Linked DNA regions of Homo sapiens. The protein of the gene in region 6 purifies or fractionates together with the protein of the main gene of each other region. This does not show direct contact. Each region holds a gene or a part of one and is shown on either strand. Other genes may lie near its edges.

Region 1 (4,141 bases), on a different chromosome or scaffold from region 6:
TAAGTAAATACTCCAAGAATGTACAAGCTATTTATTCTCATACTGAAATCAGCATCTGACCCCTACAATGGTACCAAACAAACTTCACCAACTCTGCTGACCATCTTCAACAGACCACTGGTTGATTAAATTACGTAGTACAGGTAAAGTGCTTGTATTTTATTAAGTCTCATCATTACTGACTCACATCACTTCCAAAGTGTAGGAAAAAGAAAAAAGTCTTCAAGCTCTACAATCACTCAGTAACACATCTGTTCCACACAAGTCTATAACTCACAATTCAGAGTCATACAACTGGATAACAGATTCTTACTGCAACGAGATCACTGCACTCCTCACAGCACCCTTAAGATCAACATAAATGGTCAGAAACTGCAAGCAGAATGAACAATAAATCCATAGTGAGGAAAGTAACTTACTGCATTTGCCATTAGGGCTGGCAAGGAAAAGGCCACACTAATTACAGGACTTGCTGTATTGCTTCCTGAACCTCTACAGCTACCCATTGTTAATACGAAGAGAAAGGCACAAAGTGACAAAGGAGAATAATTCCCTCTGCAAGTCACCTAAGTGAATATTCAACTGAAGTGTATAGGAGACAGAGGTCTTAAACATCCCTGATGAACAGGGCTGGCACAGAAACATTATTTGTTCTCACACAGCAATATGAAAGGTCACAAACTATTTGACATATTTGCACAAGAGTGGTCATGAGAGATCAGGACGATGTGACAGTTTCGTTCAACACACATAACTGAACAGACATTAGCTGAAGCCCCACCAGGAGCCAGGTGCTGTGTGGGGTATGGAAGGTGGGGAAGACAGGGCTCCTGCCCTTAATGAGCTCCAGACCCCAAACTACCTGATGAGAGCAACCTGGAGAGTCCATTTTCTATCTTCTGTGCGCCTCCATTCAGCATGCTAACAACCTCGGCAACAGACAAATAAAACCGCCTCCGTCCAGTCACACCTGCCTCTCATTCCCACTGCCTTGTGAAAGGAGGCCTAAAATAAGAAGGTATCAAGTGTGGAGTCAGGGATCTGGAGGAAACCCCCATAAAGGGCTGGGCCAGCAGTTCACGTGCAACCTCAATGGTGGTTATTCCTATAGGTAGCTCAGGGCCGAGGAGAGCCACAAGCTGTATTACTGAACCCCCAAGTTATTTCAATACTTCCAGAGCCTCCCCAGCTCCTCACCCACCTTAGAACAATCTGAAACAATAAAGACAGTTACAAAACTCGCTACATGTCAGGCTGGTCACTCAGTGCTCCTCTTCTTGTCTCTGAAATCTCAGAGGTGACGATTCTTTCTCAGAAAGGCCTTCCCTACTCTGTCTTGTGTACCTCTGTGTCTCAGCTAACACTGACACTGGGAGCTAGCAGTGTTGGAGCTGAGTAAATAAGTATATGTTGAACGCGGGAATGGCCAAATGTTGGTGAAACTAAGTTGATACTCATTAACACATTCACAATTAAGGTAATGAGGAGAAAGACATGTACGCCTAAGATCTGGGTCATAAATATTGACAAAGCCAGAAAATACACATTCCTATGAGAGTTAGCTCATTGTACCTCTTAAAATCCCACAATACAAATATTTTGGAAAAGGCTGCAATGCTCTTTATGCATTCATAAGCAACAAATACAAAAACAGTGAAGCATCACCATGTATCAGCACGTGACAGAGAGAAGGGCTAACACAGGAGGAACTGCTCAAAGACAGGAGACACAGAACTTCAACGGAGCCATCATCTTGTCAGGTCAATCTGCTTTATTTCAAATACTAGTATTAAAACTAAAAACATTTCTCTTATTTAGTTTTGATTTTACTGTTTATTAATTATCTATGATCTAACAATATTGTCTTCTAAGGTCTAACCTAAGATCTAACAATAAAAATATTCAGTATTTAACTAAACAATGGTTTAAATATACAAGCCCGGGAAACCTAATATTGTTTCTGTTGGAAAATAACTCCTGAATTCTAAAATGCTAATGGCCAATAAATTTTAAAATACAACTCGTCATAGGTTTCTTGCAATTTTACAAAAAATAGTTTCAGCCAAATTTCATAGTGAATTTCTATGAGAAAACTTTTAAGATCCAAGTCCATCACAAAGCTGCAGTTTGATCTTGGTCTACAATTCAGCACTTAAAATAATGCATACTGCATAGAGTACATCTGGTACTCATTCTTCAATGTGTGACAAATGACCCCTACATCAAGTGGCTCCCATCAATCCATACGGCTTGAGCTGTCAGATAAGATCTACTTTAACAATGAACAGAGACTGTATCTGTTCCTAAAACAGGAGTTAAAAACACAGCAAGACCAAGTGGTAAGAAATAAATGCTTGAGGCTTAACGAGTCTATGAGGGCGGCAAAGTAAAAGAAACTCTTGCCCTGTGCACAGGCTGAAACCAGCCATTATTTTGCTGATGTTGTAGCTAGAAACTCCATTTGAGAAATTATGACAAAGCTCTTTCTCAGTGATGTTTTTGAAGCCAGAAGATCTCCAAGAGTAATTTTTGAGCCTGAAACTCTAGGGTCAACTATCTCTGTTTATGCTGTTTATTCACGTTGGCTCTAGATACTTCCCTTGGTATTGTGGCCTTGGAAATAGGGCAGTACAACAGGTTAAAAGGAAGCCAGAGGCCACCCAGTCTTCTTACCACCTAAGAAAGAAACGCTCACCACAAACAAGCAGAGATGACATAAACGTTAATACTTACGGTACAGAAAAAACTCCCTGAATAGAACATTTCTCTTATTCACTTTTGATTTTATTATTACCTATGGTCTAACAATATTATCTTCTAAGGCTGTTCATTGTAAATATTCAGTATTTAACTAAAATAAATGTAAAAATAAAACTTTTTTTCTAAAATTGCTATACTTTTGTTTTTATTCACAACTTCAGTTACTTTGAAATTTTAAACAACAAGAACATGAGATTTTTAGGCACCGAAAGAGGCTTAGGGTTTTAAAAAGTATGAGAAATAGTATAAAAATCTTCAATTCAAGCATTATTCAAACAATCTGAGTTTAACTGGACGTGAATGAGTGTGGCAGACATTCCTTACACACGAATATACCCAAGGAGCGCAGAATGACAAGCCATAGGATGAGTGAAACCACATTTTCCATGTGCTTTCAACAAAGAAAGAAAGGGGGAAAAGAAAGAAAAACAGTCTGGTGGTGTTTCCTTCATCTAATCCAAACATCTCTCAAGGACATCAATTAAGAATGTCTAGAGAAAGTGTTATCTTTCATGAATTTTCTCCATGAATACACTTCCAATCAATCCTTCTAGGTAAACACGAATGTTTAGTTGCCACCTGAAGTAAAAATACACAAGTTCTCTATGGTAAAACCTGTCATGGAATAGAGCTTGGTTTACTTCTAGCATCAAAAAACTTCAGAAATATAGCAGAGCAAAAGTACTGACAAGATAAGCAAACCAAAACAAATAAACCAATAAACCCCACAAAAATCAAACTGAAATGTCTCCTGTTTTTCTTATTTATAAACATCAGATTAAACATCTCAGACAATATCCACTGCAGTAAATAAGACAGAAAACTCCCTGGGCTGTTGGGGCCTAAGAAACGAGTGGCGAAGAAGTTTTAGCCCTGTAAATCAGTCGTGTGTTTGGCTCACCTCATCTCAGGGAGAAAGGTTTTCTTATAGGCATTCTCAATGTCCTGTAGATAGGCAGAGGTGATCTTCATTTCATGTGGCTAAACAGAAGCAGAAAAATCAAACTGGGAAACATTTAGAGTTCATTCTCTTTGACCTGTGCGTATATAAAATGCGAAGACAATCACTGACCACCATTTTCTTACAACTCACACCGGGCACTGTGGGGACTGCGGGGTGACAGCAAAGGGTCCCAACATCAGCTAGAGTCATTCTCCTTCTACTACAGTGAACACCTGAGCCTGCCCAAGTGCTCCCATAGCGTGACTTTCTCCACACATTCTAAGATGTATACTTAGGGCAAGAAAGATGCCTGTTACGAAGCAGCACTGCCTGTCTTTCCTGTCTGCCTCGTGCCTGAGTGCAGGAATGAAAGAGCACCAAAAATTGGGGGCAGCGGCCTGTCTGTCCGCCATCTGTCCTCAGCACACTCTCTTCTTG
Region 2 (4,891 bases), on a different chromosome or scaffold from region 6:
CCTTATTATTTTATATTAGTCATGTGAGCCCTGGAAGCTTCTGAGTTTGCAATCCTTCACCTATATGATCCCATCTGGGGACGCATCCAGTTCAAAATAAACATCCAAAGTGAACAGAAGTAAAAAGAGATTACTTTATGCTTAAAACTCCCTTTGACTCCGTGCTGGCTAAGGGATAATGTCCAAATACCTTAGTATAATACAAAAATATTGTTAAGACCTATCCAGTATCATTTCAGAGAAAGCCTCACATCAGCTACACTAAATGACCGATTCTCTGAACACACCACGTCATTTCATGCCTCCCTGTTTTCAGAAGGCTACTCTGTCTGCCTTAATGCCTTCCCCCACTTTCTCTGCTTTCAGACTCCTCCTGCAAAACCCAGCTCAAATATCACTACTTAAGAACTTTACAATGTTATCTCATTTAATTCTCACAGCAAACCCGTGGGGTGGGAACTGTTACTCCCATTTTGTAGATGGGGAAACTGAGGCTTAGGGAAGGTAAGTGGTATATAGCCAGGTCTCATAGCCAGGGAGTGGAAAGCTGGGGTTCAAATCCAGGGCTGTAGAATACCAAAGTCCACACTCTCCATTGCTCCCTCATTGTGATATGACTTTAAAAGAGGGTGGAGGAGGGAGAAATAAGGGTTTGGTGGGGAGGAGGCTGTAGGAAGGAATGGAGAGAAAGAGAAGACCCCCACTTTGAATCACCCGAATTGCATTCTTTTTTCCTTTGTTCTTTGTAGCTGTGACTTGAAGCTCCACCAATATCCCTATGTCCCCACGAGCCCCAGGAAAGCTGGCCCCAGCCTGCAGACCTCATTGATTTTGTTGTCCAGCTTCATCACTTCCCCTGGTTTCATTAGTTTCTTTTGAAAGGCACTCCGGACCCGCTGCCAGTCTTCCCCTTCCCTGTGAGAGAAGCAGGAATACATTTAGAGCACACTGAAAAGAAAAGAAGGAGATGCAGAAATACTCCAGCTGCAACTTCAGGAACCATAAAATCAAACAAACACTGAGAATCATGCCAAGAAATAGCCAGAGAATATTAGCATCAGAATATTTGGGATAAAATAGTGATCATCTTTTGACAATAGTTTGACAATAGGATGAAAAAGCACCTTTCCTCCTAGTCAAAGATTGCACCAAAAAGTTGAAGTCCAGATAATTTGGGTTCAGGGATTTTGAGGTGTCCTTGCAGGGAGTGGGGCTGGGAGGCCTGGGGACAATTCCTAGCGGTAAAAGGGGGCATGTGAACACCCCATCACCAGCAACTCAGATCTGTTTGAGGGAAGAATCTTGTCTTCTTTCAACTCATTGGTGTGGGCTTCATATTTACAAAATATCTCAGATTTAGAATTTTGCCATCGCCTCCAAATAATAACATACAGTCAGAGAGTCACTGGAGTAATAAAAAGCCTTTTGCGATCGTGCACTTGTAGGCACCTGCCCCATAGCAGACCATACAGCCTGTGAAGCACCGTGAATTAATAGGGTTTTTAATTCCAGTCATTATATCCTGGAAAATATAACGATTAGGCATTACAGTTTGGGGGTAAATAAAGGTGCTAACTTGTTAAATGCTAACAACTAAAAAGCAGAAGAATCACATCCCATAGTAGCATTTGTCGACCTAAAACACAACTTTGATATCCCTCCTTATTCCACCTTTACAAGTAGAAATAAGGCATGTCCCCCAATCCTCTGCAGAAAATGTCACTGTAAAAAGCCAAAGAGGCTAACTCCTCGCTTTTGAGCTTACAAGGTGTTTCAGGGAGTTTTAAGGGATAATTTTGTTTGTATAAGATGTTTGCCTGGTACGCTGACTTCAGAACCTCATCCTGCCCAAGAGTCTGAACACCACAGTTGGTACAACCCTGTTTTGGCGTTTCTTTGATGGGAGGGTGTGGCCCTGCCCTGTTGCCAGAGAGAACGCAGGTGCTGGGTGCACAGCACGGCTTTTCCGTGGACCGACTCTAATCTGTACAAGAGCTCAGGGTTGCGATGGCACGGGAGAGGGGCTTTGGTATCCGCCCTACGTAAGAAGCTTCCAACCCCAGGGAACTCTAACTCCGCCTCTTCACAATTTCCAGGCGCCGTCAGGCTCATCAGGTCTGGCCGCATGCCCAGGTCCCTCGGATTGGACTCACAGGATCAGCAGCCCGTAGCCTTCTTTGCGGTAGTCGCGATAGGCCTTCCACGGTTTGATCTCCAGCCGCTGCGGGTACGCGCTCTCGGTGCGGTACAGCGCTTCCAGCAGGCATGGCGAGCCCAGGTGCACCGACTCAAAGGAACCCAACTTCATGCGGAAAATCTTGCCATACTTCTTGTGGTACTCCACCTGCAGCCGGCCGGGCACAGCGCGGTGTCAGCGCGCATCCTCCGCCGTGCCCGAAGCGCTTTCCCTCCTCCCGCCTCCTTCCTCCTAGGGGACCGGGGACCCTCCCTGCCCAGACGCCGAAGCGCACCATGCGCCCGAGGCGCGCATGTCGGGGAGGGTTTGGAGCGCCACTGGGAGGGCGGAAGAGGGAGGAGAGAGTCAGGGGCGCGAAAAGGGGTTTACCAGGGTGTCGTGCTGTTTCTTGAGACCCCCTTTCCAGAGAATCTGCAGCAGGCTGCCCAGCAGTGGCCAGCTGGTGGGGCCCGGCAGGGCGGCCGCGTTCTGAGTCTCGCCACCAGCTGTCAGCGGGCAGACTGGCACCTCTCGCGGCTGAGGGGACGTGTACGCCGTAGATGTCACCAGTCTCGGGGGCTGCCTCGGACTGCGCAGCTGCTGCAGGAAGGCGGCAAGCGAGCGGCTCTTGCTGATGGGGGAGCTCATGGCAGCGGGGGACACCGGAGCGCGGGAAGGCAGGAGGATGGGGTGGGGCGAGGTTGGTACGAGGTGCTAGTGGGAGTCGGGGCTTAACGATTCTGGGAAAAGGAAGCAAAGAGGGCCAGCTGGTGTGATGGAGCGGGGTGAGGCGGGACAGGCAGCAGAAAGGACCTCGGCGAGGATGCTCGACGCTGCACCACGCGACAGCCTCAGAGCATTGGTGCCTCCTTGCACTGGCCGCAGGGGCTGGAAGAGGGTGGCCGGTGTCTGGGGACCTCTTGAAAAGGGAAAGCTGGGAGTCCTCCTGTTGGTCCGCAAGGCTGACCTCTAGGGTCTGGCTGGAGCCACGGGGAGGTGTCAAGGAGGGTAGATGAGATGCTGCTGGCGCTGCGTTTCCTCCTGTCCCTCTCCATGTTCCTATGCCCAGGGACCATGCATTTATGGAGACAGAGCATGCCCTGGGTGGCCAATGAGCACGCAGAGGAGGGCGGAGTGGCCCCCGGCTGGCCAGACTCCGAGGGACGCGGGACCCAGGGGAGGGGGGGTGGAAGGAGGATGGAGTCAGCGAGGTGAGCGAGGGCGTCCGGGCCTGGGGTGACCGGGGCTATGTTCGCTGGGCGCGGGAGGTGGGGTGGGGGCGGCAGACTCCACCCCGGAGATAACCCCCAGGAAGTCATGCGAAGCCCGGAGTTCACCGGGTGTGCTTCGAACGCGCCTCCCCGCCCTCCCCCGGCGGGCAGGAGCCGGCAGCGGCGGCCGTGGTTGCCGCCCGGCGCTTGCACAATCGCGATGCCGGGCGGGCGAGGTCCCCGAGTGCGGGCCCAGAAAAGCTGCCGGCGTCTGCCAGGGCCCCGGGGAGCCCGGGCGCCTCCCGGGGAGCCAGATACCCCCAGCCTGGACTGAAGTGATTTTTTTTTTTTTTTTGCCTTTTTTTTTTTGGAGGAAGTTTGGCTTTCTGCGCCTCCCAGGGTGGGGAGGATTTGAGTCTTACTGAAATGCACCAGAAGAGGAGACTTTCTTAACTTGAGCAAGAAGGGGAGTTTGTAGAATTTCCTTCCTGCTGTTTCATGTTTGGTTGTTTTGCAGATTAAATGAATTAATGCACGTAAAGCGGCAACAACGAAGCCTTGTCTATAGTCAACAGTCAATAAAAGTTAGTTGCTGTTGTTACTTCTTTAGGAAGTTAGGAAATGCGCCTTGAGAGCGTGGCTTGCACCAACGATGCTTGAATTCAGGCTGGGCCACCTCCCCTATGTCCACTGCCCGCCTCTGTTCTTCTACACCGACTACCTTGTGCAAAGGAGGGGCACACAGAGCTTGAAACCACCGCCCCCAGTACTCCCCCTCTCCCCCAAGGTGCGTCCTAGGCAGGTCCAGTGACAAACATACACAATTTCTAGAGTTACCGCGGCTGGCAAGAGTAGAACTCGCTTTGCTAATTCAGGAACGGAAGTTGGAGATTTTTGTTGATTGTTTTAAAGTGGCTCGAATCCTTTCAACCTGATCCAATACAAAACTACCACCAGCCAGGGAGGAGGGGAGGGACATTCTGTTTCCTCGCCCTGCTTTTCAATTACGTGTCTCAGTCATTTTTGCCCCAAGTGTTGGCAAATCCTTCCCTGGTAAATTCTTTTGTAAGCCTCTAGTTTGTTTCTTAAAAATCTTTTGCAGTCCAACTTAAGCTTTAACACCATCATTTCTGATTTGTCTGGAGGGGCTAATGACTGTTTATGTTAATAAAAATAATAGCTATTGATATATACTAAACTTTATGAATCTTGTACATATTTATATATACATTGTATGGTATATATGTTACAGCATACACTATAGATTATGTTATATGCAATACACACTAAATATACATAATATAGTATAGATTGCATACAGTATGTAGATTCCATATGTTATATAATATTCTCATGAAAGCTTTCTAGGGCTTATGATAAGTCAGGCACTGAGCTAGACATTTTACATCATTTTTTCCGTTTAGTTCTCATCTCAGCCCAATGTCAATAAAATGAAATAAAATAAAAAACAAAAAAAAATCAAAGACAAACAAAAAAACCCTTG
Region 3 (4,141 bases), on a different chromosome or scaffold from region 6:
AAAATCCTTACTAAGAACTACAAAATGAACAGAGGAAAATAATTGAAACCAACTGTATGGTCTTATTTTGTTAAATAACATTTCATATTACCTAACCTCCCCAAACTATAAAGCTTCAAGGCTGGGGTCAAGTCTTTCTTATTTTTTTTTTCGCATAACTCTTAAAACACATAGTATAGTATGGTAAACCTATGAGACAATGAAAAACTGTCTTTTCAAGTGGGATTAAAAAAAATGAGGCCTAATAATAACACAATACAAAAGGATTTGCTAGTCTTTATGCCTTCATTTAAGAATAATGATCCTTCAGATGATAATTCAGGGTTGTTTTAAAATCAGTGTATCATTTTGAATTTATAGTGAGCTGACTGATAACAACCGTCTATCAACACCAGCAAACTGGCAGATTAATAAACCTGTTAGATAGAAAGTTGAATTGATGGTGGCTGACCATATAGTAAAATAGCATATGAGAATGAATGTTAAGTCTAACAAATTGACAAATTCTAGTTATCATCCAAGTGATTTTGCCCCAAGGCTAATCATTGGTTGAATTTAAAAATAAAAACTTACATCTTTTAAGGCTTTACTGCTAAAAAAGGACTCTCACTTTCTATCATATTAAAACCCTATGAGGTAAATTAAGGTGGGTTAATTGTCCCCAGTGTACAGATAAAAGAGAGTCCTAGAAGAGTGTGGTGGCATGCACCTACAGTCCCAGCTACTTGGGAGACTGAGGCAAGAGGACTGCTTGAGCCCAGGAGTTCAAGGCTGCAGTGAGCTATAATGGCACCAATGTACTCCAGCCTGGGTGACACAGCAAGATTCCATTTCTAAAAAAAGAAAGAAAATGTTAATTTAAATTTTAAATTTAAAAAAAATTTTGTTTTAAGAGTATCCAAGTCAAGCAGAATGTCCAATGTCACATAAATCTTAAGTGGCTGGACCAGAATTAGTCCTACAAAGCTCATCCTTTGTTCCCAGTTCCAGACTCTTCCTGCTCTGCCACCTCATGCTCTCAGTGGTTAGCACTCTATTTTAGGAATAATATCTGTAATTCTTAAACAATAATAAATTTCTAACCAAAATGCACATAAGAGAACTAAACTGGTCTGCCTTGATAAAACTGCATCCTGTCAAAGCAAAGATGAGATTATATTCAATTAGTGCTGCTGTTTTGACTGGACTTTATAGCACAAATTCATTTAATAGCACACCAAAGTAAAAAGCACAAAAGCCACTTTATGTGAGGAAATGGTCAGGCTGCCCCTGTCAGCTCATGGTAATTTGTCCATACGTTTGCACAACTTCAGAAGTTTGACCCAAAAGGCAGTCTGGCTGTCTCGGGTGGGAAGACTAGGATCTGGGGAGATCAAGTCTATAACATCCAACTCTGTTAGTTTTTCCAATAACTCATTTCTTCAGCCAAGTATCCTTTAATATATCAGTCTAGATGGAATAATACAGATACTATATGAATTCTGTCACTGCAATCACTCTGATACCACTATAGACAACTTGTTCAGAATAACTAACATATATAGGTAGAAGTTAATGAAAAACTTCAGCCACACATAAGGAAAAATGAAACAGCTATGAAAACGGAATGGGCTGCCTTCTAAGGGAGTGAACTCCCTTGTGAAGGCAGTATTCAGGTAGAGATGAATAACAACAACCTATAGGGAGTATGTAACAGAAGAGAAGAAAGCAGCAGCTGGGGAGAAGGGTTTGTAAGATCTCTTATAATCCTCAATCTAAAAAAATTAACTCTATAAATTGAATTAGTTTGCTGCTAATAGATGAAAAATAAAAAATCAAAACAAGTCCTAATACTGTCTGAACTTGTTTAGGTCATTTAATATCTGCGGGCAGCTTATATAATACGTAAAATGAGCTGGAATTAAATGTTCTTTAAAGTTACTTCCAAGCTTAATTCTCAGTTTTTGAGTTGCTAAAAATAGATGTCCTCCAAATCACTACACTAAAGTGAGATCATAAACTTTATTCACTCACAACTTACATACTTTTATTTTACACATTAGCATATTCATCTGGGTTCTAAAACTAACAGAAGTATTTAATGCCACTGAACTAGGGAACTTAAAAATGGTTAAAGTGGTAATTTTTATGTTATGTATATTTAACCACAATTTTTTGAAAAAGCTAAGCAGAACTGGATACAGAAGGTAAGAGTGAAGGAGGATAGCTAAAGTAGAGACATGAAGAACAGTCAACTGATACAAGATACAAAAATCCACAAAAGAACAAACCCACCCTTAAGAGTACTGGTTAAAGCAGAACCAATCAAGGCATGAGAGAACTTACCAATAAATATATTTTAGTGTAGGGCTACGCAAACTACAGCAGGGACCTCCTCTTTTTGTAAATAAAGTTTTATTGGAAGACTGCCACATCTATTTACCTATTGTTTGCAGCTATTTTGCTACCACCACTGAACTGAGAAGTTGTAGTAGTGACTAGAGAACCCCAAAAGCTGAAAATATTTACTATTTGGCCTTTCAGGGAAAGTGTGCCAGCACTTGTCTTACAGCATCACTGTATTACAGTGCAGTATAATAATGCATCCTTAAAATACACATAAGTTGAACAAGAAATGTTAAACTCTATTGATTACAATGTTTTAATATGGCAGAGAAATATGTAACATTTACTAGGGAGATATATCAAGCATAGTTTTAAATTTTTAAAGTTTGATGTTTAAGGGTACCAGTGAATATGATTAGACAATGCTGATAAACAGGAGCTGTGCAAATTCATACATAACCTATTTTCATACTTTTCTTTCAATGTAATGGTGCTTACTGTTCTTATACAACCAGAATCAGGATATTAGAAGAGTAGACAGTAGAGATTTACAAGTTCAAAACTTAACAGATGTGGTTCCTTTGATTTTCAAAACTATGGAATGTTTTTTACTGTTTTAGACGTTTCCCACTTATAATGGGGGGGAAATCTTAAAAGTAACAAAAGGAGGCAGGAAAAACAATGCTCGTTCTCATAAACCACAACTGCTAATGTCATTTTGGCTTATTTCCTTCTATTACTTTTTCTGAGCTTTTTAAATAGCTTGAGATCATACTGCATAGAAAATTCTGTATTCTAACTTTTGGCCGTTATAACATTACCTTATATCCTAAAAAGTACCTGCAAACATTTTAAATGACTAAATAAGAGACCCTCATATGAATGTACCACAATTTACTTAACTATCCCACTAATGTTGAACATGCGTTTTTCTCCATTTTTCTCTAGTATGCATAACACTGTACCAAAAATAATAGGAAATAAATCTTTCTAACACTTCAGTTTATTTTGTGAACTTAGATTCCTAAAAAGGTATGAATACTTTGTAAGTTCCTCATAGAGCTTAAAAATTGCTCTTCAGAAAGTTTACCATCAAGAATTGAAGGACGGGTCTATGTCACTCAAAATATCCTCATCAAGAAGACAATTTTAAAAATCTTTTTTAGAAGCCTGTACCAGAAATAAATAGGCAAAAATATATTTCTTAATCCTGAAAGCTATCAGTTTTATTCATTATGCAACATCTACAGTTCTATGTTTCGAAAGTAATGCTTTTACTATAAACATTTCTTTATAATGAATTTAACATATCAAGCAGAGGACACTCCCAAATGGAAGTCAAGGTACATTAACATTTTGCTTCTACTACGTTGTAGGGGGTCAGAAAATCACTAAGTGCAGTGATGACTCACAAGTAATGTGTTTCATAACCAAAGCAATTTTGCACCTGAGTAGATTTCAGGGTAAAACTGTACTAACAGTATCTCTATGTGAAAGCTATGTACCTCACTGAGAGATATCAGTAATTAATAACTATTTTTATAAATACATCTGTTTACTCACCTTTCTTAAGCATTTCTCTTACTAGCAAATGACTTAAAGGTGAAAAGGCACAGACAGGCAACTATAAAATATAACCTTAATTTATATAGGATTTAACATGATTGAGCTCCCTCACACAAATTCTATAATTAGGCTTTCAGCTTATATGGTCATAATTTTTCTTCATTTCAAATATCACAAGAAGGAAGTAGTACAGCCTTTTACTATTACTTTCTTTTTTTTTTTTTTTTTGAGACAAGAGTCTCGCTCTGTC
Region 4 (4,141 bases), on a different chromosome or scaffold from region 6:
TTTAAAAAATTAAAACATTGCAGACTAAATGTACTGATAAGTACATACTGAACACATTTAATTACCACAGTAATTAAAAAGTCCTGATCTTTACTTCTTAAGATGAAAATTCATTAACTTGCAATCTCTGGGATTTCTCTATTATCCACAATGAGAGTATGAATAATCCCTTCTTTCCGCTTCCCACTACTGACAGCCTTTATGTAACAGTCATGGTTCCCGATACTGAAGTGAGTTTCAGTCCCATCATCTACAAACTCACCCTGGAGCAACAAAAGAAGAAGGAATTAGTGGTGCAGAAACTTTTATCTCTGTCTAGAGCATTCACACCATCTAAAAGTACTAGTAGTGCAATAAAATAATGTATTAGTTAAACAATAAGCTTTGAAAAACAAAGTCTAAAGCTTGTACTTAGATGCTTTTACATTTCTGTTATGAATTGAAAGTTTCCTTTTCATAACCCCTACAATCCTTAAGAATCTTAAATTCTTGGGGGAGGAATATAAACCTCATGACTATGTGTCTATGTTTTCAAAAATAAAAATGATAAATATGACATTTATTAGTTATTTATAATATACCTCAAGTGATCTACCCACCTTAGCCTCCCACAGTGCTGGGATTACAGGTGTGAGCCACTGCATCCAGCCAGGGATGGAGTGTTCTTAGCCACTCTGAAAATCTGATTCCTCTGGGTATAAGGTGGCTTACAGTAAAATATACATATAACAAAACCAAACACCACTAAATCTATACCTGTTCTGTTCAATACAGTAGCCACTGGCCACATGTGGCTATTGGGCACTTCAAATTGACTAGTCTGAAAATAGATATGCTGTTTAAATATAAAATAGACACTGGATTTAGAAGACCTAGTATGAAACAAAAAAATGTATAAAATAACTTTTTATACTGATTACATGTTAAATACTATTTTTGGTATATTGATTTAAATCAAATATAATATTTAACTTCACCTAAAATTTTTTCAAATATGGATACTAGATAAATTAAAATTACACATGAAGGTCCTATCTGTGCCTCATATTATGCTTTGATTGAGTAGCAGTGATCTAGAGTAAAAAGATTAGCGCCAGGTAGCGCAGAGAAGGAAGGAAGAAAGAAGAGGCTTAGAGGATAAAAAAAAGATTTATGCCAGAAAGCAAAGAAACCAAAAATCAGACTTAAACCCCCTGGCTATTAGCTTCCTGGCAGCCAAAGTAGATAGAACAAGGCCCCCCAGTTAACAAACCAAGCCAAAGAAGGCACAGGATGCCTCAGGGAGAGAAGCCTTTTCCTAGCTCTGGGAAGGATGTGGCCCGTGGCTCCTTATGGGAGGTATGCTGAATACCACAAGCATGTCCTTGGGTGCAGTGTGTTCTTGTCCCCATTTTTAATATTGAGCCTTGAAAAAAGACTTCGGAAGAAAGGGCAAGGGTTAGGTAATACAATCTATATACGTAGCTTCTTGGCAATTGGACAAATATATAATTTTGGCACGATGCTTTGAGATAAAAAGGAGAAAATAAGCTGTAACTCACAGGCAACAAGATGAGTTTGTTGTGGGTACGTACAGTACTGGGGAAGGCTGCCTAGATATGGGGCTGCCCAAACTGCCCTGCAAACTAGGTTGTAGTTACAATGAGAAGGCAACTGTGTTATAAAGAGCTATTTCCAAACACATGTAGTTTCCTGTTAATTACTACAAAACAAAGACATGTGGATGAATATTATTTTCACCTTTTTACAACCACAACAACATTCCTTGTGTATGTGTGTGACAGGGTCTTGCTCTTGCCACCCAGGCTGGAGTACAGGGGTACAACTGTAGTTCATTGCAGCCTTGAACTCCTGGGCTCAAGCAGTCCTCCTGCCTCAGCCTCCTGAGCAGCGGGGACCAGGTACACACCACCATACACAGCTAACTTAAAAAAAAAAATTTATAGAGATAGGGCCTCATCATGTTGCCCAGGATGGTCATGAGCTCCTGGCCTCAAATGATCCTCCCATCTTGGCCTCCCAAAGTTACAACTGCATTTTTTTTTTTTTTTTTGAGACAGGGTCTCACATTCTGTTACCGAGGCTGGAGTGCCGTGGTGCAACCTTGGCTCACTGCAGCCTCAATCTCCCTGGGCTCAGGTAATTCTTCCACCTCAGCCTCCTGAGTAGCTGGGACTATAGGCATGTGCCACCATGCTCTATTAATTTTTGTATTTTTAGTAGAGAGGGGTTTCGCCATGTCACCCAGACTAGTCTCTAACTCCTAGGTTCAAGCAATCTGCCCGCCTCAGCCTCCCAAAGTGCTGGGATTACATGCATGAGTCACCTCGCCCAGTACAACCATATTCTTAATACCATAAAACAGCATTCTCTTTACATGTGCACTGGAGAATTTCTTGAATATGGGAGGAAATGCAATTCAAAAGTGCTGATTCCCTATCTAGAGAATTCCAGGGTAGGAAAAAAAGAACAGGAAGAACCACCAGGTATGGCATTGGGCACACAGTAGGTATCTGATCCATGTTAGTGGTAACTGGAGTTTTTCCAAAGGGGGCCATAAAATACTGAAGCACTCTCCAAGCCTCTCTGCATAAAAGAAGTCTCTATCAGTAGATTTAACCCAGAGAACAGCTCAAGCACTCAATTTAGAGTGAGCCCAAATTAAATTCTTCAGGACTCAGAAACAGAAAAGCATTCATCTTCGTAACTTTTAAATTTCAATTGATTGATTAATTTTTTTAGAGATGGGTCTCACTATGTTGCTCAGGCTGGCCTAAAACTCCTAGGCTCAAGGGTCCCTCTCACGTCAGCCTCCCAAGTAGGAAGCCACTACAGACCTGTGCTACCACGTGTGGCTTCATCTTTGTAATTTTTGATTTCTGGTTTTGTCACCTCCTCAGAAACAGCTATCAGACCAAGTAGGTTCTAGGTGGTCTTCTGAATGAATTAATCCCAGACCTCCTTTCCTCCAACTACCAAAATCACCTTTTCTCACTGTCTTAAACCTATACTATACAAATGAGATAAAAGCAACTACAACATGCAAAATGTGACCAGAGAAGAGAGCTTCCGATTATCTCTAGCCCTGATGTTCACATCTGGAGCCAGCATGAAAGGTGGGTCCCAGGGATAGCACTCCCTGCTTGGCCCACAGACCCCATAAGACATGGGGATTACCACCCAGTGATTTCGGCTCCTAGTCCCACACTTTCTGTTTCCCACTCTCTCCCCTGTGCACACTACTACTGTTTCACTCCTGCTTGAAATTCACTCCTACATTCATCCCATCCACAGCCATAGTAATCCAAGCACCTGATAGCAAAAGTCAAACACACTGGAGTCTATCTAGATGGGGATTTCAGTGTGCCTGGCCACAGTGACTGGGGGAGCCTCTTTCTCCTCGCATTGGCACTGCTGGTCTAAAATTCCACTTGTCCTCCGGGGTTCGTGAGAGTGCCCTTTCCTGTTCGTCTACCTTCGTGTCATCTGATATTGTATCACTCATTTTACAAAAATCTCGCTTTCAGAAAAGAACCATCTGCTTTGAGTGTATGGTGTAAAGCATTCCTAAAGTGTGATCTGTGGACCAGTAGCATTAGCAGCACCTAGGGAAATGTTAGAATTAGCATTTTAACAAGATTCCAGGCAATTTCTGTGCATGCAAGTTTGAGAAGCAGTGATAACGCACCACTTCAAATGGATCAACACAAGAGGACACCAACCTCTGGGGATATAATTTTTTAACTAGGGGCTCTTTTTAGGTATTTTACTTGCTATGCTGGAGCCTGGTCCAGGACAGGAAAGGGAGAGTATGAAGCTAGTGCCAGCTAAGAACATGAGTTGTTTCCAAACTCACGGTACCAGGCACCATCTGGCAAAGGTTTTCAGAATCTGAAGTCAGGAGTACTTAATCCCTTTTTTGTTTTTATCAAGAGGGCCTTGATTCATTATAAGATCTCTATAATTAGGAAATGCAGCAACAATTCAATGGTAACTGAGACACATGGCACTTAGAGTCATCAAATAGTCAACTTACCGCTGTCTCCAATTTTTTACCATTGCACCATACGTCCATAGCATCTTTTTCTGTAAAGGTAACATAAAAACTTTAAGTTATAATTCTGTGATTTAAAGATAAAGT
Region 5 (4,141 bases), on a different chromosome or scaffold from region 6:
ACATTTTGGCTGGGTGCGGTGGCTCACGCCTGTAATCCCAGCACTCTGGGAGGCCAAGGCGGGCAGATCACCTGAGGTCAGGAGTGCGAGACCAGCCTGACCAACATGGCAAAACCCCATTTCTACTAAAAACACAAAAAAATTAGCTGGAAGTAGTAATGCATGCCTATAATCCTAGCTACTCAGGAGGCTGAAGCATAAGAATTGCTCGAACCCAGGAGGTGAAGGTTGCAGTGAGCTGAGATCACAACACTGCACTCCGTCTCAAAGAAAAAAAAATCCTAAATGTGATCACTGTCCTGTGGTTATATAACAATGTCCTTGTTTTTACGAGATACATGCTGAAGGAATAAAGGATCCTGATGTCTGCAACATACTTACAAAAAGATTTTTTTTAAACAGTGATGATGACCGGGTGCAGTGGCTCACGCCTGTAATCCCAGCACTTTGGGAGGCCCAGGTGGGCAGATCACCTGAGGTCAGGAGTCAAGACCAGCCTGGCCAACATGGTGAAACTCCCGTCTCTACAAAAATACAAAAAAAATTAGCCGGGCATGATGGCAGGTGCCTGTAATCCCAGCTACTTGGGAGGCTGAGGTGGAAGAATCGCTTGAACTGGGAGGGAGAGGTTGCAGTGAGCGAGATGGCACCATTGCACTCCAGCCTGGGTGACAGAGAGACTCCATCTCAAAAAAAAAAAAAAAAAAGGGCGATGATAACATGTATATAAAAAGTGATAGGGCCAGCTGTAGTGACCCAAGCCTATAATCCCAACACTTTGGGAGGCCAAAGCAGGTGGATTTCTTGAGCCCAGAGGTTTGAGACCAGCCTGGGCAAGATGGCAAGACTGTCTCTACAAAAAACTTAAAAATGAGCCTAGCATAGTGGTGTGCACATGTAGTCCCAGCTACTCAGGAGTCTGAGGTGGGAAGATCACTTGAGCCCAGGAATTTGAGGCAGCAGTGAACAATGATTGTGCCACTGCACTCCAGGCTGGGCAAGAAAGCCAGATCTGTCTCTTAAAGAAAAAAAGAAGTGATAAAGCAAATACAGCAAAATGTTAATAAATGGCAAATCTGGAAAAAGAGTACACTGGGGCCAGGCATGGTGGCTCACGCCTGTAATCCCAGCACTTTGGGAGGCGGAGGCGGGCGAATCACTTGAGGTCAGGAGTTCAAGACCAGCCTGGCCAACATGGTGAAACTCTGTCTTTACAAAAAATACAAATACTAGGCGTGTGTGGTGGCGGGCGCCTGTAGTCCCAGCTACTCGGGAGTCTGATGCAGAATTGCTTGAACCCAGGAGGTGGAGGTTGCAGTGAGCCAAGATTGCACCACTGCACTCCAGCCTGAGTGACAGAGCAAGACTTCATCTCAAAAAACAAAAACAAAAATAAAAAAAAAAAGGGTACACTGGTGTTTACTGGCAAAATCAAAGCTAAAATTTCTAGTTCAAGTGACTTACCTACTCAATACAATTAAAAAAAATAATCTCAACATTGTTTTCCATATGACTATGTAATGCCAATAATAATTAACATTTACCAAGACATCTCAAGAGAAGGATAAAGAAGATAAAAAAAGTTGGTAATAAACTCAAAAAAATTACTGTGAGTGGTTGGTTCATCTTTGCCTTGGCAATAAGGCTGAGTCAAAGGCAGAATGACATAATTCCTTTCCTTGATCCCTCTATGGATAAGAATATGCTTATTTTCCTAAACCATGTCTTTTCCAATCTCTCTCTCTTTTTTTTTTTCTGAGACGGAGTTTTGCTCTTATTGCCCGGGGGGAGTACAACGGCTCACTGCAGCCTCTACCTCCCGGGTTCAAGCGATTCTCCTGCTTCAACTTCCCAAGTAGCTGGGATTACAGGCAAGCGCCACCACGCCCAGCTAATTTTGTATTTTTAGTAGAGACGGGTTTCTCCATGTTGGTCAGGCTGGTCTTGAACTCTCGACTTCAGGTGATCTGCCTGCCTCGGCCTCCCAAAGTGCTGGGATTACAGGGGTGAGCCACCACACCTGGCTCCAATCTCTTTATTTAGAAATTCTTTCCTAAGACCATTCCAAATTTCTGAACACAAAGCCTCAAATGGCTTCACTTGATCTGGCTAACTCCATTTCACTGGCATGCATGCATTCAATCATTCATTCATTCATCTGACAAAGATTTACTGAGCTCCAACTAAGTAGTGGGCCCAATTCTCTTTCACCAGAGATACAACAGTGAAAAGACAAATTCCCTGCCTCATAAAGCTTACATTCTGCTGGGGAAGATAGACAACACACAGATAAATTAAAATGTAATATATAAGCACCATAATAAAAAATTTTAAATGCAGCATGACACGGGGATATAGCAACGGGGGAAGGGTAATTCTATGCAAAGAGATAGCATTTAAGCAGAGATGTGAAGTAACAGAATGAGACATGAGAATGTCTACAATAGGAACAGCAAAAGACCCAATGAGGACAGCAAATTCAGCACACTGGAGACAAATCCCAAACTTACTTTACTGTATGCAGAGGGTTGATCCTTTAGGGTCTGACAATGCATCATGGTTCCAAGGGCTACTTGCTGGACCAACAGTTGAAATTTTAAATTTCTAGAAACAAAATCTGTCTCACAGTTTACCTGTGGGAACAAATTGATATAGCTGTATAAGCTGTTTAATGATAATTTCCAAAAGTGCCTTAAGGCTGGAGAATAAATCAAGATACTGATAGAACAAGCTACAGACTCAACGGAAAAAAAATGACTCCAAAATTTTAAAGCTACGCTTCCTCTCCTAGCCTGGAACAGAATGAAGTGATTTATGTTGGGCCAGTGAGTTAGCAATAGCCTGTATATTCAGAAGATGGTTCAATAATGTCCTGAAGGACTCACCACAAGTTCACCACTTACCTATGTCTGCACACCATCATCACCTCATTCTCCAGCCATCCCAACTCCAAACCACTTATGCTATTATCTTGTTTATCCCCATCTCTCACTCTAAACTAATCCACATCTGACTCTTCACCAATTATGGCCCCCAAACCTCCTCTAAAATACCTACTCTCTATTCAGCAACAATTAATATAATTAACTTGTAATCTAACTGTTCCAGGAAACAATCAGTGACAAGGTGTAAGCCTGTGCCAGACTCACATTCAGGAGTAATATTCTAGACTGTCAGGCCATTTCTCATCAACACACCAGTACATTTCTATACTTAAACGAATTCGTAACTAATACCCAGGGTTTCATGAGTTTAACTTCAACTACGCTTTATGGTTCTTAAACAGATCTCTTCTTCAAGAACAGGCCCCTTTAGGGCCTACTACAAGCTTTACACCCAAGGGACAGCTGTTCTTGGTATCTGGAATTTCCAACAACTCACCTCTACTAATACAGTTGTGTTTCCTTCCTGCAACAGCCCAATCAGGCCTTCTTTGGTCTTCCTCCCTTGGAGCTTGGCAGCTTTGCTCCAGCCCTCCTTCTGGGCCTCCTTGTGGAGCCAGATCTCTGCCTGTAAATTGAGAGGAAAAAGAGCAGACAACAAAGTCACAGAATTTAGCACTAAATGTAGTTCTAAGATATACTCAGGTTTCCTGATTCTCTAAATTCTCTAACAGAAACTAAAGTAATCTATCATTTACTGGCAGTCTACCACTAAATGCCAAATACCAGGTATTATTATAACTGGTGCCTTGGATGAATCTAATCTTCACAACAACCCTATGGGGCACACAGTTGTATTTTCTTTATACAGTTACGCACCACATAACGATATTTTGGACAATGACGGACTGCATATATGATGACGGTCCCTAAGATTATAATGGAGCTGAAAAATTCCTATTGTCTAGTGACACGGTAGTCCTCCTAACATTGTAGGGCAACATATTACCTACATGTTTGTGGCAATGCTAGTGTAAAGAAAACGTCTGTGCTGCCAGTCCTATTAAAGTATAGCACATACAATTACATATAGTACATGATACTTGAAACAATAATGAACAACTATGTTACTGGCTTATGTATTTACTATAATACATATGCTTTATTGTTATTTTAGAGTGTACTCCAACTTATAAACTACTCGGGTGGCTGAATTTCTTGAACCCGGGAGGCGGAGGTTGCAGTGAACCAAGATCTAT
Region 6 (4,141 bases):
CCAGGATGGTCTCAATCTCCTGACCTTGTGATCCACCTGCCTCGGCCTCCCAAAGTGCTGGGATTACAGGTGTGAGCCACCGTGCCCGGCCAAGTCTATCAATTTTTTAAGTGGATTTGTGCTTCATGTGTCCTATCTAAAAGAACTCTGACTAATTCAAGGTCACTAATACTTTTCCCTGTTTTTTTTAATTTTTTTTTTCTGTAGAGACAGGGCCTCACTATGTTGCCCAGGCTGATCTAGGACTCCTGGGCTCAAGCAATCCTACTGCCTCAGTTTCCCACAGTGCTGAGATAACAGGCATGAGCCACCAGGCCCAGCATCCCCTACATTTTCTTGAGTTTTATGATGTTAGGTTTTACTTTCTTTATCTCTTATCCTGGAAGATTTTCACAGCCCTTTTTTTGTTTTCATATGATATTTTAATAGAATGGTTCTCATTTTGGATTTATCTTTTGTTTCCCCATTATTAGAGTCAGCTTACACATTCTCAGCTGGAATATTACATAGGTGATATTGTATCCTCAGACAATTACATCTGGAGGCACATAACGTCCACTTCACCCTCACTGGTGATGTTAATTTTGATCAGCTGATGAAGGCAATTTCCTGAAAGCCTTTGTTCAAATATACTCTCATGGATTAGTTCATTCAACATATATATAATGAATTCCAAGATATACCACTCTGAACTATACACGCAAGGACTCTTGTTTCTATGAAACAGAGAACAATGACCAAGCAAATATTACAAATGTGACAAGTGTCATAAAAGGGTAAGTATAAAGTACTTTTGGTGAAAGACTGCTGTTCCCTAAGATCAAGATCAAGGCAAGGAAATCTGCTCTCACCACTTCTATTCAACATTGCACCTAAGGCCCTCACTGGTGCAGTAAGGCAAGAAGAAGAAATAAGACTAACTCTATTTGTAGACTACACAATTTGCTACATAAAATATTCCACAGAATCCACAAAGATCAACTAGAACTAATAAGCAAGCTTTAACAAGGTCATGGGATAAAAGGTCAATATAGAAAAATCAATTATGTTTCAATGTACTAGCAATAAACAATTAGAAACTGAAAAAAATACAATTTTCTATAGCATTAAGAAACATGGCTGGGGGCGGTGGCTCACGCCTATAATCCCAACACTTTGGGAGGACGAGGCGGGCGGATCACAAGGTCAGGAGTTTGAGACCAGCCTGGCCAATATGGTGAAACACTGTCTCTACTAAAAATACAAAAATTAGCCGGGCGTGGTGGCATGTGCCTGTAGTCCCAGCTACTCAGGAGGCTGAGGCAGGAGAATCTCTTGAACCCAGGAGGCAGAGGTTGCAGTGAGCCGAGATTGCACCATTGCACTCCAGTCTGGGTGACAGAGTGAGATTCTGTCTCAAAAAAAAAAAGAAAAGAAACATAAAACACACGAATAAATCAAATTATATGTACAATTTATATGCAGGAAATCATAAAAACATTCCAGAGTAAAACAAAATGTATGAGAAGACATGTATTATGATGCCGATTCTTTCCAAGTTGATCTATAAATTCAACACAATCACAATCAAAATCCCATTAAACTTGTTTGTAGAAATTAGCAAGCTTATTCTAAAACATATCAGAATATAACAGATCTAGATTATGTAAAATGATTTTGAAAAAGAAGAACAAAGTTAGAAGACTCTTACTACATAATTTCAAGGCTTACTATAAAGCTATAATAATCAAGATGGTGTGACACTGGAATAAACAGAGATGCAACAGAGTCCAGAAACAGACCTACTGAATGTGCTTGATTCTTGACAAAAAAACCTAAGATCATTCAACAAGAAAAGGATAATCTTTTTTATTATTAGTGCTGGAGTTAATGGACATCCATATGTTGAATAAATGGACTTTATTCATACTATATACGAAAATCTAATTCGAAGTGAATAACAGATCTAAATGTAAGAGCTAAGACTATAAAACTTCTAGGAAAAAATTCTTTGTGACCTTTGTTAGGTAAAGATTTCTTGGCCAGGCACGATGGCTCACGTCTATGATCCCAGCACTTTGGGAGACCAGGCGGGCAGATCACCTGAGGTCAGGAGTTTGAGACCAGCCTGGCCAACGCGGTGAAACCCCATCTCTACTAAAAATACAAAATTAGCTGGGCCCGGTGGTGCGTGCCTGTAATCCCAACTACTCGGGAGGCTGAGGCAGGAGAATCGCTTGAACCTGGGAGGCGGAGGTTGTAGTGAGCCGAGATCGTGCCATTGCACTCCAAGCACTCCAGCCTGAGCAACAAGAGCACAACTGTGCTTCAAAAAACAAAAAACAAACAAACAAACAAAAAAGATTTCTTAGGACACATGAATCATAAAAGAAAAAAATTCAGCCAGGTGAGGTGATGTGTGCTTGCAGTCCCAGCTGCTCGGAAGGATGAGGTCAGAGGATCACTTGATGCCAGGAGTTCAAGACCAGCCTGGGTAACACAGATAAACCCCATCTTTAAAAAATAAAGGAAAAAATGGGCCTGGCACAGTTGCTTTTGCCTCCCAACACTTTGCTGGACCAAGCTGGGAGCACAGTTTGAGTCCAGGAGTTTGAGATCAGCCTGGGAAACCCAGTGAGACCCTGTCTATATGAAAGGAAGAAAACAAAAGGAAAGAAAGAAAAGAAGGCCGGGCGTGGTGGCACATGCCTGTAATCCCAGCACTTTGAGAGGCCAAGGCAGGTGGATCATCTGAGGTCAGGAGTTCAAGAGCACCCTGGCCAACATGGCGACACCCAATCTCTACTAAAAATACAAAACTTAGCTGGGAATGGTGGGGCATGCCTGTAGTCCCAGCTACTTGGGAGGCTGAGTCAGGAGAATCGCTTGAAGCTGGGAGGCGGAGGCTGCAGCGAGCCGAGATCGCACCATTGCATTCCAGCGTGGATGACAAGAGCAAAACTCTGTCTCAAAAAAAAAAAAGAATGAAAAGAAGAGAAAAAAGAAAAAAATTGATAAACTGGACTTTATCAAAATTAAGAACTTTTACTCTTTGAAAGGCATGTTCAGAGAATAAAAAGATAAACCAGAGACTTGAAGAAAATATTTGCAAATCAGCACCTATCTGATAATGGATTTGAATCCAAAATATATGAAAGAATTCTTTTTTTTTTTTTTTGAGACAGAGTTGCACTCTTGTAGCCCAGGCTGGAGTGCAATGGCGCGATCTCGGCTCACTGCAACCTCCGCCTCCCGGGTTCAAGCGATTCTCCCGCCTCAGCCTCCCAAGTAGCTGGGATTACAGGCATGCGCCACCACACCCAGGCAATTTTTGTGTTTTTAGTAGAGACGGGGTTTCTCCATGTTGGTCAGGTTGGCCTCGAACTCCCTACCTCAGTTGATCCACCTGCCTCGGACTCCCAAAGTGCTGCGATTACAGTCATGAGCCAGAAAGGATTCTTACAACTCAATAATAAGATGACCCAATTTCAAAAAATGGGCACAGAATTTGAAAAGCTACTTCACTGATGAAGACATAGGGATGGCAAAATAAACACATGAAAAGATGTTTAACATTATTAGTCATCAGGGAAATACAAGCCAAAAGCAAAATTAGAGATGACTATATATCTATTAAACAACATAACATAATCTCACAGAGGGACTAAGAAACTGGCATTAGATCCTCAATCCTTTTAGGTAACTACATTTAGTGAAAATAAAGGCACAGACAGAAGAAACTCAAGAGAAGATTTCAATTTTACTTACCCCATAGCAAACTCATCTAAATTTGTTTTTCCCATTAGTAGAGCTCCCTGATCCAACAACTTCTGAACTACTGTAGCATTATAAGGTGGTATATAACCTGAAAAAAATTTAGTTACTATTATTTTTTTTACAGTCCAGAAGTCTTTTATTTGTTTATACCTATTATGCCATGAATTCACAGGGAATAGGCTCCAACAGCTCAGGAGCCTTCCCATTGGTTCTCACACAGTGCGCTTCTCTGGGTGGAGCAGGCTGGCACGTCAGTTGAACCCAGGTACCTTTCTCTTTGGCTTCCTTCTTTTCCTCATCATTTTCCTCAATGCGTTTCAGGAAGCTATCTCGGCTCTTACAGTACTTACTGTGCTCAATATGCACATTCATTCTCTTGGCAAGA
Region 7 (4,141 bases), on a different chromosome or scaffold from region 6:
TGTGTTTGTATACTTAGTTTCTTACTGACTGATGCTACCTGACCTCAGGATTCAGTTATCACCTCTCTGGATTAGCTGCCCCAGTATGGCTTTGTACGTTTATTTTATTTTGCTGGGGATGTCATAACAAAATACCACAGACTGGATGGCTTAAGCCACAGAAATTTATTTTCTCAAATCTGGAAGCCAGAAGTCTGAAATGAGGGTGTTAGCAGATTTACTTTCTCCTGAGATCTCTTTTTTGTCTTGCAGATGGCTGCCTTCTCTGTGTCTTCCCTCTGTGTGTGTGTCCTCATCTCCTCCTCTTACAAGAACGCCAGTCATGTTGGATTAGGGCCCACCCTAATGACTTCATCTTACGTTAATTACCTCTTTAACTTCATTATCCTGTCTCCAGGTGCAGTCACATTTGAGGTTTTGGGGTTAGGGCTTCAACATATTAATTTTGTGTGTTTTGTGCGGGCACAGTTCAGCCTATAACAACATCCTTATTCTTCAGTTCATCTGCTCTACCTTTACCTCCTCCAGTGACTTTCCTAAGACTGTTTGATTTCCATGTATCAATTCACTTGTCTTTACCTCAGATTATTCTGTCTACTCATTACAGTAATCCAGAGAAGAATTTTTCTTCTTTTATCTTTCAAACATGAACAGATTTTCTTTTTATTTATTTATTTATTTATTTATTGATCATTCTTGGGTGTTTCTCGCAGAGGGGGATTTGGCAGGGTCACAGGACAATAGTGGAGGGAAGGTCAGCAGATAAACAAGTGAACAAAGGTCTCTGGTTTTCCTAGGCAGAGGACCCTGCGGCCTTCCGCAGTGTTTGTGTCCCTGGGTACTTGAGATTAGGGAGTGGTGATGACTCTGAACGAGCATGCTGCCTTCAAGCGTCTGTTTAACAAAGCACATCTTGCACCGCCCTTAATCCATTTAACCCTGAGTGGACACAGCACATGTTTCAGAGAGCACAGGGTTGGGGGTAAGGTCACAGATCAACAGGATCCCAAGGCAGAAGAATTTTTCTTAGTACAGAACAAAATTAAAAGTCTCCCATGTCTACCTCTTTCTACACAGACACGGCAACCATCCGATTTCTCAATCTTTTCCCCACCTTTCCCCCCTTTCTATTCCACAAAACCACCATTGTCATCATGGCCCATTCTCAATGAGCTGTTGGGTACACCTCCCAGACGGGGTGGTGGCCGGGCAGAGGGGCTCCTCACTTCCCAGTAGGGGCGGCCGGGCAGAGGCGCCCCTCACCTCCTGGATGGGGCGGCTGGCCGGGCGGGGGGCTGACCCCCCCAACCTCCCTCCCAGACGGGGCGGCTGGCCGGGCCGAGGAGCTCCTCACTTCCCAGTAGGGGCGGCCGGGCAGAGGCGCCCCTCACCTCCTGGACGGGGCGGCTGGCCGGGCGGGGGGCTGACCCCCCCACCTCCCTCCCGGAGGGGGTGGCTGGCCGGGCGGTGGGGCTGACCCCCCCACCTCCCTCCTGGACGGGGCGGCTGGCTGGGCGGGGGGCTGACCCCCCTACCTCCCTCCCGGACGGGGCGGCTGGCTGGGCAGAGGGGCTCCTCACTTCCCAGTAGGGGCGGCCGGGCAGAGGCGCCCCTCACCTCCCGGATGGGGCGGCTGGCCGGGCGGGGGGCTGACCCCCCCCACCTCCCTCCCGGACGGGGCGGCTGGCCAGGCGGGGGGCTGACCCCCCCCACCTCCCTCCCGGACGGGGCGGCTGGCCGGGCAGAGGGGCTCCTCACTTCCCAGTAGGGGCGGCCGGGCAGAGGCGCCCCTCACCTCCCAGATGGGGCGCTGGCCGGGCGGGGGGCTGACCCCCCAACCTCCCGGACGGGGCGGCTGGCTGGGCAGGGGGCTGACCCCCCCACCTCCCTCCCGGACGGGGCGGCTGGCCAGGCAGAGGGGCTCCTCACTTCCCAGTAGGGGCGGCCGGGCAGAGGCGCCCCTCGCCTCCCGGACGGGGCGGCTGGCCGGGCGGGGGGCTGATCCCCCCACCTCCCTCCCGGACGGGGCGGCTGGCCAGGCGGGGGGCTGACCCCCCCATCTCCCTCCTGGACGGGGTGGCTGCCCGGCAGAGATGCTCCTCACTTCCCAGACGGGGTGGCTGCCGGGCGGAGGGGCTCCTCACTTCTCAGACGGGGCGGCTGCTGGGCGGAGGGGCTCCTCACTTCTCAGACAGGGCGGTTGCCAGGCAGAGGGTCTCCTCACTTCTCAGATGGTGCGGCCGGGCAGAGACGCTCCTCACATCCCGGACGGGGCGACAGGGCAGAGGCGCTCCCCACATCTCAGATGATGGGCGGCCGGGCAGAGACGCTCCTCACTTCCTAGATGGGATGGCGGCCGGGAAGAGGCGCTCCTCACTTCCTAGATGGGATGGCGGCTGGGCAGAGACGCTCCTCACTTTCCAGACTGGGCAGCCAGGCAGAGGGGCTCCTCACATCCCAGACGATGGGCGGCCAGGCAGAGACGCTCCTCACTTCCCAGACGGGGTGGGGCCGGGCAGAGGCTGCAATCTCGGCACTTTGGGAGGCCAAGGCAGGCTGCTGGGAGGTGGATGTTGTAGCAAGTCGAGATCACGCCACTGCACTCCAGCCTGGGCACCATTGAGCAATGAGTGAAGGAGACTCCGTCTGCAATCCCGGCACCTCGGGAGGCCGAGGCTGGCAGATCACTCGCGGTTAGGAGCTGGAGACCAGCCCGGCCAACACAGCGAAACCCCGTCTCCACCCAAAAAATACGAAAACCAGTCAGGCGTGGCGGCGCGCGCCTGCAATCGCAGGCACTCGGCAGGCTGAGGCAGGAGAATCAGGCAGGGAGGTTGCAGTGAGCCGAGATGGCAGCAGTACAGTCCAGCTTCGGCTCGGCATCAGAGGGAGACCGTGGAAAGAGGGGAGAGGGGAGAGGGAGAGCCAGATTTTCTTTTTTATAAGGATTTTTGATTTAGATAAGGATGTGGTACCACTTGCAGAACTAGGGAAAGGAATTAATGTTGGGGAAAAAAGTTACCCCAGCCAGGTGCGATGGTGCACGCCTGTAATCCCAGCACTTTAGGAGGCCAAGGTGGGCAGATCACTTGAGCCTAGGAGTTCAAGACCAGCTTGGGCAACATGCCCAATGTGGTGAAACCCCGTCTCTACAAAAAATACAAAAATTAGCTGGGTATGGTGGCGTGTGCTTGTAGTCCTAGCTACTCGGGTGGCTGAGGTGGGAGGATCACCTGAGCCTGGGAGGTAGAGTTGCCGTGAGCTGTGATGGCACAACTGCACTCTAGCCTGGGTGACAGAGCCTCAAAAAAAAAAAAAAAGTTATGCCATCTTTTTCCATTTTTGGCCTCCGTATACAGTTGTTTATCCCAGTCTGGTTACTCTTGCCTTTGATATCTGTCACAGATTTCTTGCCTCTTCTCTGTTCTTACTGCCGCCCCTGAATGTGGGACCTCTTTTACCTCATTGATCTACCTGCCCACATTCCTCCTCTGCTGCTCTGCTTTCTTCCTTATGTATTCCACTTAGAATCTGTATTAGTCCATTCTCATGCTGCTGTAAAGAACTGCCCCAGACTGAGTAATTCATAAAGAAAAGAGGTTTAATTTACTCACAGGTCCACAGAGATGGGGAGGCCTCTGGAAACTTAGAATTATGGTGGAAGGGGTAGCAGGCACATTCTTCTCCACATAGTGGCAGGAAGGAGGAGAATGAGAGCCAAGCAAAGGGGAAGCCCCTTACCATCGGCTGTCATGAGAACTCACTATCACGAGAACAGCGTGAGGGTAACTGCTTCCATGATTAAATTACCTCCCAACAGGTCCCTCCCGAAACACATAGGGATTATGGGAACTACAGTTCAAGATGAGATTTGGGTGGGGACACAGCCAAACCATATCAGTATCCTCTAGATTAATTTTCATAAAATGTACTTTTCCTTACATTTCTTTCCTACTCAGGATCATTTATTGACTTAGTGTGACTCACTGAATTCTGCCTATCTTTTGGGACTCTATATGAACATTCCCCAGCAGCTTCCGTTAACTGTGTGACTGTACTTTTCCTTTCTGTGTGCCATGTTCACTTCTGCTTCCTTTCGTTGTCTGTCTTTTTGCCAGCCTGAATTCCGCATCCTCCTGTA

Evidence for each region.
Region 1: the proteins of QRSL1 (region 6) and NDUFA10 purify together in Homo sapiens (affinity purification with mass spectrometry; one large-scale study listed by BioGRID and IntAct). This does not show direct contact.
Region 2: the proteins of QRSL1 (region 6) and CYP24A1 purify together in Homo sapiens (affinity purification with mass spectrometry; one large-scale study listed by BioGRID and IntAct). This does not show direct contact.
Region 3: the proteins of QRSL1 (region 6) and GLS purify together in Homo sapiens (affinity purification with mass spectrometry; one large-scale study listed by BioGRID and IntAct). This does not show direct contact.
Region 4: the proteins of QRSL1 (region 6) and FAIM fractionate together in Homo sapiens (co-fractionation; one large-scale study listed by BioGRID). This does not show direct contact.
Region 5: the proteins of QRSL1 (region 6) and TSFM purify together in Homo sapiens (affinity purification with mass spectrometry; one large-scale study listed by BioGRID and IntAct). This does not show direct contact.
Region 7: the proteins of QRSL1 (region 6) and SPECC1L purify together in Homo sapiens (affinity purification with mass spectrometry; one large-scale study listed by BioGRID and IntAct). This does not show direct contact.

The regions. Positions count from the first base shown.
Region 1 is NC_000002.12:240,007,956-240,012,096, forward strand, and holds part of NDUFA10 (NADH dehydrogenase [ubiquinone] 1 alpha subcomplex subunit 10, mitochondrial isoform 1 precursor), read right to left. Parts: exon of another isoform or gene 3,742-4,141; coding exon 3,662-3,741; intron 1-3,661. UniProt on the Homo sapiens protein: Accessory subunit of the mitochondrial membrane respiratory chain NADH dehydrogenase (Complex I), that is believed not to be involved in catalysis. Complex I functions in the transfer of electrons from NADH to the respiratory chain.
Region 2 is NC_000020.11:54,170,756-54,175,646, forward strand, and holds the start of CYP24A1 (1,25-dihydroxyvitamin D(3) 24-hydroxylase, mitochondrial isoform 1 precursor), read right to left. Parts: upstream 3,232-4,891; 5' UTR 2,825-3,231; coding exon 2,567-2,824; intron 2,345-2,566; coding exon 2,154-2,344; intron 916-2,153; coding exon 822-915; intron 1-821.
Region 3 is NC_000002.12:190,886,895-190,891,035, reverse strand, and holds part of GLS (glutaminase kidney isoform, mitochondrial isoform 1 precursor), read right to left. Parts: intron 1-4,141. UniProt on the Homo sapiens protein: Catalyzes the first reaction in the primary pathway for the renal catabolism of glutamine. Plays a role in maintaining acid-base homeostasis. Regulates the levels of the neurotransmitter glutamate, the main excitatory neurotransmitter in the brain.
Region 4 is NC_000003.12:138,629,052-138,633,192, reverse strand, and holds part of FAIM (fas apoptotic inhibitory molecule 1), read right to left. Parts: intron 4,087-4,141; coding exon 4,037-4,086; intron 264-4,036; coding exon 114-263; 3' UTR 1-113. UniProt on the Homo sapiens protein: Plays a role as an inducible effector molecule that mediates Fas resistance produced by surface Ig engagement in B cells.
Region 5 is NC_000012.12:57,785,532-57,789,672, reverse strand, and holds part of TSFM (elongation factor Ts, mitochondrial isoform 2 precursor), read right to left. Parts: intron 3,511-4,141; coding exon 3,382-3,510; intron 2,634-3,381; coding exon 2,511-2,633; intron 1-2,510. UniProt on the Homo sapiens protein: Associates with the EF-Tu.GDP complex and induces the exchange of GDP to GTP. It remains bound to the aminoacyl-tRNA.EF-Tu.GTP complex up to the GTP hydrolysis stage on the ribosome.
Region 6 is NC_000006.12:106,642,697-106,646,837, reverse strand, and holds part of QRSL1 (glutamyl-tRNA(Gln) amidotransferase subunit A, mitochondrial), read right to left. Parts: intron 3,845-4,141; coding exon 3,748-3,844; intron 1-3,747. UniProt on the Homo sapiens protein: Allows the formation of correctly charged Gln-tRNA(Gln) through the transamidation of misacylated Glu-tRNA(Gln) in the mitochondria. The reaction takes place in the presence of glutamine and ATP through an activated gamma-phospho-Glu-tRNA(Gln).
Region 7 is NC_000022.11:24,315,613-24,319,753, forward strand, and holds part of SPECC1L (cytospin-A), read left to right. Parts: intron 1-4,141. UniProt on the Homo sapiens protein: Involved in cytokinesis and spindle organization. May play a role in actin cytoskeleton organization and microtubule stabilization and hence required for proper cell adhesion and migration.